2 linked regions of the Homo sapiens genome follow. The protein of the gene in region 1 binds, or shares a complex with, the protein of each later gene. Each region holds a gene or a part of one and is shown on either strand. Other genes may lie near its edges. The genes, in order: CDC45 and MCM2.

Region 1 (3,818 bases):
GCACTCCAGCCTGGGCGACAGAGCGAGACTCCGTCTCAAAAAAATATATATATACCTCTAATATACACATACTTAGTTATAAATCATGCACAGGTTTTAATTATATAAAAAGTATTCTTCTCAAGAATGCTTAATGTTATTAAAATCAACGCTCTAGACCTAATTTACAGATCATAGAAAATGCAGGGATAGAGAAGCAAGTTAAAGTACTCCATGAAGAAACAAGTAGTAGTAAATATTAGAAAAGAGAACTGGCCTTCAATGTCATTAAAAACAAAAGAAAAAAAAGAGGTAAGGTATGGTTCTAGGTTAAGACAGTAAAGAGGAATAGCTAAATGTCTTAATCTTGATTGGAGAATAGTTCAGAAATAAAAATAGCTGCAAAATATATTTTGAGGACAATTAAAGAGACCTGAATATGGGCTGAATATTACATGATATTAGGATATTATTAATTTCTTATGTATGACAATGGCATTGTGTTTATGGGGAAGAATGTCCTTATTCTTAGGAGCTGCTTATGAAAGAATGTGTAGAATATCATGGTTTCTGGCTGGCTGTGGCAGTGCATGCCTGTAATCCTAGCTACTTGGGAGGCTGAGGCAGGCGAATCGCTTGAACCCAGAAGACAGAGGTTGAAGGGAGCCGAGATCGTGCCACTGCACCCCAGCCTCAGTGACAGAGTGAGACTCCATCTCAAGAAAAAACAAAATAAAAAATAAAAAAGAATATCAGTTTCTGCAATCTATTCTCAAATAATACAGAAAAAAGAATACACAGAAAGAAAGCAAATGTGGCAAATGTGAAAAACTGTTTTTGTTTTTTTTGAGACAGGTTCTCTTCATGTTGCCCAGGCTGTTCTCAAATTCCTGGGCTTCATCAATCCTCCTGCCTTGGCCTCCCAAGTAGCTGAGACCACCTACAGTCATGATCCACTGTTGACTCTAGATTGAAGGTACATGGATATTCACTGTACTATCCTTTCAACCACTGTATACATTTCAAAAAATTTCAAAATAAAAAGTTGGTGGGAAATTATGCCTATTATAATCCATGAATATTATGTTAAACATTTACAAACACAAATTCCAAATTGATGTGTTAAGTATGTAAAAGGAAACGCTGATTATTTTCCTGTATCTCATCAAGACAACCTACCTTCTCTTTATTGCCAAACCCACTGGTCTGTTCTCATTTGCCTGTTCCTTTGGCACTGCTGGCCAAGCCTTCCTTGAAACTTTCCTTCCCACCTCAGAGCTGCAGTGTCTATGGATGCTCTGCCCAGGAATCCTCTTGGCTCCATCCCCTGCTAACTCATGTTTGATACCTGAAAGCTTTCCCTAATTGTGCTCATTTACATGATCAGTATCTGTCTCCCCCAATGGAAAGCTTTGCAAAGGCAGGACTTTGCTCTCATACCCGCACCCCAGGGCCTAACTGGTACCTGGCACATAGTAAGTGCTTAAAAAATATTTGTTTATTAGTCAGAGTGGAAAATTCCAAGACTTATCTGTAGAACATGAATGTTTCCCGGGAAATCCCATTGGATACTGACATTTGGGAACCAATGAAATGCAGCTCATCGATAGTTAAAAGAATGCTATATAAAAAAAAATTCAGAGAACAAAAAGGACCCCTCACAAACCAAAGATTAGAAGATAAAGACCAAGCTGAGTGTAGTGGCATGTGCTTAGTCTCAGCTACTTGGGAGGCTGAAGTGGGAAGATCGAGTGAGCCCGAAGTTTGAGGCCAGCCTGGGAAACAGAGAGAGACCCCGTCTGGGGAAAAAACAAAAAAAAAACAAAAAACAAAAAGTCTTCCAAAAAATAGAACAAAGAGCTGGGCAAGAGGTAAGAAAATATAACAGTGGGTCCAAGAGGTTCCCTATGAGACACCCAAACCTAGTGAAAGGGGTGACAAAGGTGAGAAAGAAGAGAGAAGCATGCCTCAGTTTGAAGGGCATTGCCCCTTCCCCAAATGAAGAATGTCTTGAACATCTCAAATATGGCTCAAAAAGGCTTCCCAAAAGCACATTACCGGGAAATGTCAGGCTGAGGATGAAGGGAAGACCCTAGAACATTACGGGGGCAAATTCTAGGTCACACACCAAGATCAGGAGCCAGAGGCCATCTTCAAAAGCATCACGTGGCCCTCCGTGCTATGGGAACAACCACCTTCTGCCTGTCATTTTACATCTTGCAGAAGCCGTAGTGTTGGGTAGGCCACTGGGCCCAGCCCCAGATCACTAAGCAGCTCAGACCCAAGGTCCACATGGTGAAAACCACTGGTATCTTCACATACAAGATACCTCCCCTGCAGTAATTGTCTGGGACTGGGCCTGGCCAAGGGATGCAGACCCACATTGCTCCTCTGCAGTGACTGCATAGTAAGTGATGCTAGAAGACAGTAGAAAAGGAAGGGGTGGGGGTTACACTATTTATTGCTTCTCTACATTATTTTTTTGCTATCTAGCCGCAGAGCTGAGCTGTCCTAAATTTCATTTCTTCTGACAGGATCCTATTGGACAGATAAGCCACTATTTAGGGAAGTCCAGTAACCTGCCTGAGGCCACATAACCAGGGGACAGCAGAGCCCAGGGTCAGCATCCATGCCTGCTAACTTTTCCACTTCCCACTGCCCTCAGTACACCTTGGCCTGGCAGGCTTCAGGATGACCTCCGACCTCTGGGAGTGCAAGTTCCTCTGGGATAGCTGTGAGAGACCCAAACTCACCTCTTCTAACCGTGTGCGCTTCTCAGAAGGCTCTGACCCATCACTGTCATTTCCTGAATGCTCTTCATCCTCCTCTTCATCCCTGAAGATGTCTTCATAGGCGGGAACTTCAAGGTCATCATCTTGTTTAATGAGTAATTTGATCTAAGTTCAAAACAAAAAGGAATTAAGCCTCTCCTCTTTCTACGGAAAACTATACAATATGTTCTTCTGCAGAATCTTATCATTTCCTAATAAGCTGACTCAGTTTCCTGTTCATACAAATAGCTACCTATTTAACAAGAGTTCCAGGCTTCTAAGGAATTTTCTTGTTTTCATTACCAGTGAGGCACCAGAGTTACACCATACGTGGTATGCAGAAATTATGAAAATCTGAAAACAGTTCTTTGAGAACCATCTAGTCTACTTAAGTCTGGAAACACAGCATCCTCTTACGTCATACACCAATAAAATGAACGCCCCACAACTTGGCCTCTGTCTGATATAGGACATGAAGATGTGTAACCCCTAAGTGGTGACTAAAACTCCTGTCTGAAAGCAACTCCAGGCTGATTTTTCTTTTCTTTTTTTTTTGGAGACGGAGTCTCGCTCTGTCGCCCAAGCTGGAGTGCAGTGGCACGATCTCGGCTCACTGCAAGCTCTGCCTCCTGGGTTCATGCCATTCTCCTGCCTCAGCCTCCTGAGTAGCTGGGACTACAAGCGTCCAACACTATGCCTGGCTAATTTTTTGTATTTTTAGTAGAGACGGGGTTTCACCATGTTAGCCAGGATGGTCTCAATCTTCTGACCTCGTAATCCGCCTGCCTCGGCCTCCCAAAGTGCTGGGATTACAGGCGTGAGCCACCGCGCCCAGCCAAGACTCCATTTCAACAAAAATAAAAACAAATATTTGCTGGGCGTGGTGGCATGTGCCTGTAGTCCCACCTACTAAGGAGGCTGAGGCAGGAAGGGTCAGTTGAACCCAGGAGTTTGAGGCTGCAGTGAGCCATGATTGTGCCAGTGTACTCCAGACTCTCCTTAAAAAAAAAAAAAAAAGATGACAAAGACCAAGTTCTTGTGTTCAGGCTGTTCCCAGTCCCACAGGGT
Region 2 (3,818 bases), on another chromosome or scaffold:
CCGTTTTAGCCGGGATGGTCTCGATCTCCTGACCTCGTGATCCGCCCGCCTCGGCCTCCCAAAGTGCTGGGATTACAGGCGTGAGCCACCGCGCCCGGCCAACAGCTGACTTTTTGTATTTGTTTTTATTTTGAGTTAGTTATCATCCTTGAGGGATCCGGAGACTTCACATAGAAATCCGGATGCTTTTTGAAAATCCAAGATCTGTGGGTGCTGGCTCTGTGTTCCTCTCTGGTAACGCTGACGGAGCTGAGGCATAGCTGCCCTTGCAGGTAGGGCCTGTGTCCCCAGGTTTACCCCGTCCCCTACTCTGTCAGTTTCATGGCCCTGCCTGCCTTCCGTGGGCCCTGGACACTGATCTGGTAAAGTATTAAAGAGATCAGGGTCATGCCCAACACTTAGAGATTTTAAAGAACTAACAGAAGCAGCATGCAGTCTGAAGCCAGACTTTTTAGGTTTGAATTTTGGCCTAATCCTTAGGATGGTCAGATGAGTCACCCTTATCTATAGAAATGAGAGGATGAGAGTAAACACTCATAGAGTTGTTATAAAGATCAAATAAATTAGTGCATATAAAGTACTTGGCTGTTGGCGAGTGCTCAGTATCTGGCTGTTACTGTACATGGCTACCAAAGTTAAACTATTTGTACAAAAACTGGATGGAAGAGCCTGTGACAGGCGTGTAGAAAGCATAAGCAGCCAGTAGGTAGGACAAAAATAGCTTTGAGCCTGATGCTTTAGGCATTTTACACACATTATCTCAGGCTCATGGTACCCATGCAGGTGGGTGCTTTTTCTCCGTTTGCTGGGTGGAGCTCACAGTACCCACTCAGGTGGGCACTCTATCCCTGTTTGCTGGGTGCGGAGACTGAGGAGTGCTAGGAAGCAGCACACCTAGAGCCAGGAGGAGCATGAGCTTTGGATTCAGATGCATCTGGGGTCGAGTCTTGCCTCTCCTCTAGGAGAAAATATTTTGACCTGAGCCTTGGTTTCCTCTGTAGGATCGAGAGAAACAAGGTTATTATGAGGATTACATGAGGTAATTCATGGAAAGCGCTGTTATTCCCTGGCAGGTCTGGGATTTGATTCTGCCCCACTTTCCAGCCATTAAATTAGCCTGCTACTCTCTCCTGGAGTAACTGGGTCAGCGGTGGAAGGCACAGCAGGCAGTGTAGGCATTCACACATTTGCGCTGCTTGCCCTCCAGTCCCACAGGGAAGTCCCCCTGGATGCAGTGGTTGCTTTACAGGAGGGGGATTGAGTTGGGCAATCTGCCCTGCATAGCAAGCAGGAAGCTCTTGGCCCTGGAGGGAGACATTACCTCATCCTGCAAGGTTGCTCGCTACAAAAATTATACGGGGAAATGAGCTGGGTTAAGAGGAGTCAAGGATTGGCAGTCTTGGCACATCCAGCACGAGGTGTGTTGGGGCATGAGAGGTCCGTGGAGTGGTCTGCCCAGCATCTGCAGCACAAAGTAAGAGTTTCATAAGAGAGTCATTATACTTACTGAGGACTTAGTATCTGCTTGGCATTGTCTAGGTAATTTCTAGATAGCAATGTTCCTGTGAGGTTTCATCTCTGCCTGTTTTACTGATGAATAAACTAAGGCACAAAAGGTTAGATAAGTTGGCCATAGTCACATAGCAAGTGGCAGAGTCAGCAGCCTGGCTTGAGTCCATGCTCCCAGTGACTGTATTGTGCCAACAGTTGGTGAGTTTATTTGGTTATTGTGAGTTCCATGGGCACTCTGTGTTACATAAGGCCTGGCCCACATTTTAAAACATTGTTACAGAAAATTTCAAACAGGTATGTAGAATGGTGTAGTGAACTTTGACCATTTGTCTTAGTCCATTTTCTGCTGCTACAACAGAATACCATAGACTGGGTAATTTATAATGAACAGAAATTTATTGACTTATGGTTTTGGAGGCTGGAAGTCCAAAATTGAGGGCTGGCATCTGGTGAGGGCCTTCTTGCCATGTCATCCCATGGCAAAAAGGTGAGAGTTAAAGAGACAGAGTGAGAGCCCAGAGGGGGCCAGACTCATCCTTTTACAAGGACCTACTCCCTGGATAGCAGTGCTTTTATCCTCCATTCATGAGAGCAGATCCCTCATGGCCTGATCACCCCTTAAAGGTCCCACCTTTTAATACTGTTAAATGGGGGATTAAGATGCCAACACATGCTTTCTGGGGGGTACATTCAAACTGTAGCACTCTACCCAGCTTCCACAGCTGTCATAGTCACAGCCAATCGAGTGTTCTTAATACACCACCCATTCACCCTTGGTATATTTCAAGGCAAATTCCAGGCATGCCGTTTTTTTCTGTAACTACATCAGTATGTATATGAAAAAGAAAAGACTCTCTTTGAATAAACCTAGCCACAATACCATTATCTCACTTTAAGAGGTGATTAACAATTCCTTAATATCCAATATTCTGTTGTTGTTCACATTTCCCTGATTATCTTACCCCTTCCCCCTGTTTTTTACAGCTTCTTGGAGTCATTATCCAAATAAGATCCATAAGTTGTGATTGGTTGATATCTCTTAAGTCTCATAATCTTTAGATCTTTTCTCCATCTCTTTTTTCCTTGTAATTTTTTGTGGAAGAAACTGGGTCATTTGTTCTGTTGAGCCTTGCAGTCGAGATATTGCTAATTATGTCCCCATTAGACACACACCTCTGTCACCTGTGTTTTCTGTAATTTGGCAGTCAGGCACTGAAGCCTAGTCAGGTAAATGCCTGCTTATTTTCTTTGACTTACTAGTTTTAAAAATAATGAATTGGTTCCCAGGTGACCTGGGTATCATAACAGACAAATAGGCCCGCCGGGTGTTGAGGTTTCCACGCTGCAGGTGTCATCCCTACAATGCTCAAGTGTCCCTTTTTTGCCAGCGTGAACCTATTCATGTTGGCTCCTGAGTTCTGTTGACATGACCCTGGTTGTCTTTGAGTGATTTTTTGCTTTCTGGTAGAAGATATTGCAGGCTTCTCTTGTACATTTCCAGCCCCGGACCTGGAATTGGACATTTCTCCAAGAAGCCCCGTGGGAAGTGTTACTTGCTTTCAGAGGGAGATAGGAGTTAGAGACACCTCTAAAGCTGCATGAATTTGATGGTGCAGGCAGGACATACAGGATGCAGCCTGATGGGGGTGTCTCCCCTCCACCTTCAGGGCTGGTTTTCCTGCCTTAGTCCCCTCTCCCCAGGCGAGGGCCAGTGCTTTCTGAGCTTCTTTGTCTGTCCTACAAGGAGGGAAGGATGTGGGTGTGGCCAGTGCAGGGGGGTATGAAGGCTGAAAGCTATCAAAACATGGCTCTGCTGCAGGTGGAGTTGGAAGCAGTCTCCTACAAGCAAGAAATGTCTTTGATGTCTCTAATTCTATCTAAAATTCATGAAGATTTTGCTCTCTCCCTGTCTCTTTCTTTCTCTCACACACACACTGAAATAGAAATGTTCCAGTGACTCACTAGTTGGAATTACTTCCTGGTGGACACATCTCCCAGATGTGCCACATTTATTGCATTGACGAGGCAGGCACTTGCATGAACTGTCGCATTTGTACCCACCCTTCTGTGAGTTGGATGTTGCCATCTCTCTTTTCCATATGAAGAAACTGAGGCTTGAGGTAGGCCAGTGCCATGACAGACCTGGTTCTGGTCTTATTTCTGCTCTTGGTCTGTGATCTTGGGAAAGGCCTTTCTGAAATATGTCAAGATTAGGGGTTCAGATGAAGGTTCTTCTAAACTCCAAAGTTCTGTGACTCTTGGGAAGAGCCAACTAATGAAAAGCTTTAGAGTCGGGCACGGCTTGA

The links.
Region 2: CDC45 (region 1) and MCM2 share a complex: the UniProt entries of both Homo sapiens proteins name them as parts of the CMG helicase complex.

Annotation. Positions count from the first base shown.
Region 1 is NC_000022.11:19,482,920-19,486,737, reverse strand, and holds part of CDC45 (cell division control protein 45 homolog), read right to left. Parts: intron 2,877-3,818; coding exon 2,733-2,876; intron 1-2,732. UniProt on the Homo sapiens protein: Required for initiation of chromosomal DNA replication. Core component of CDC45-MCM-GINS (CMG) helicase, the molecular machine that unwinds template DNA during replication, and around which the replisome is built.
Region 2 is NC_000003.12:127,611,899-127,615,716, forward strand, and holds part of MCM2 (DNA replication licensing factor MCM2), read left to right. Parts: intron 1-3,818. UniProt on the Homo sapiens protein: Acts as a component of the MCM2-7 complex (MCM complex) which is the replicative helicase essential for 'once per cell cycle' DNA replication initiation and elongation in eukaryotic cells.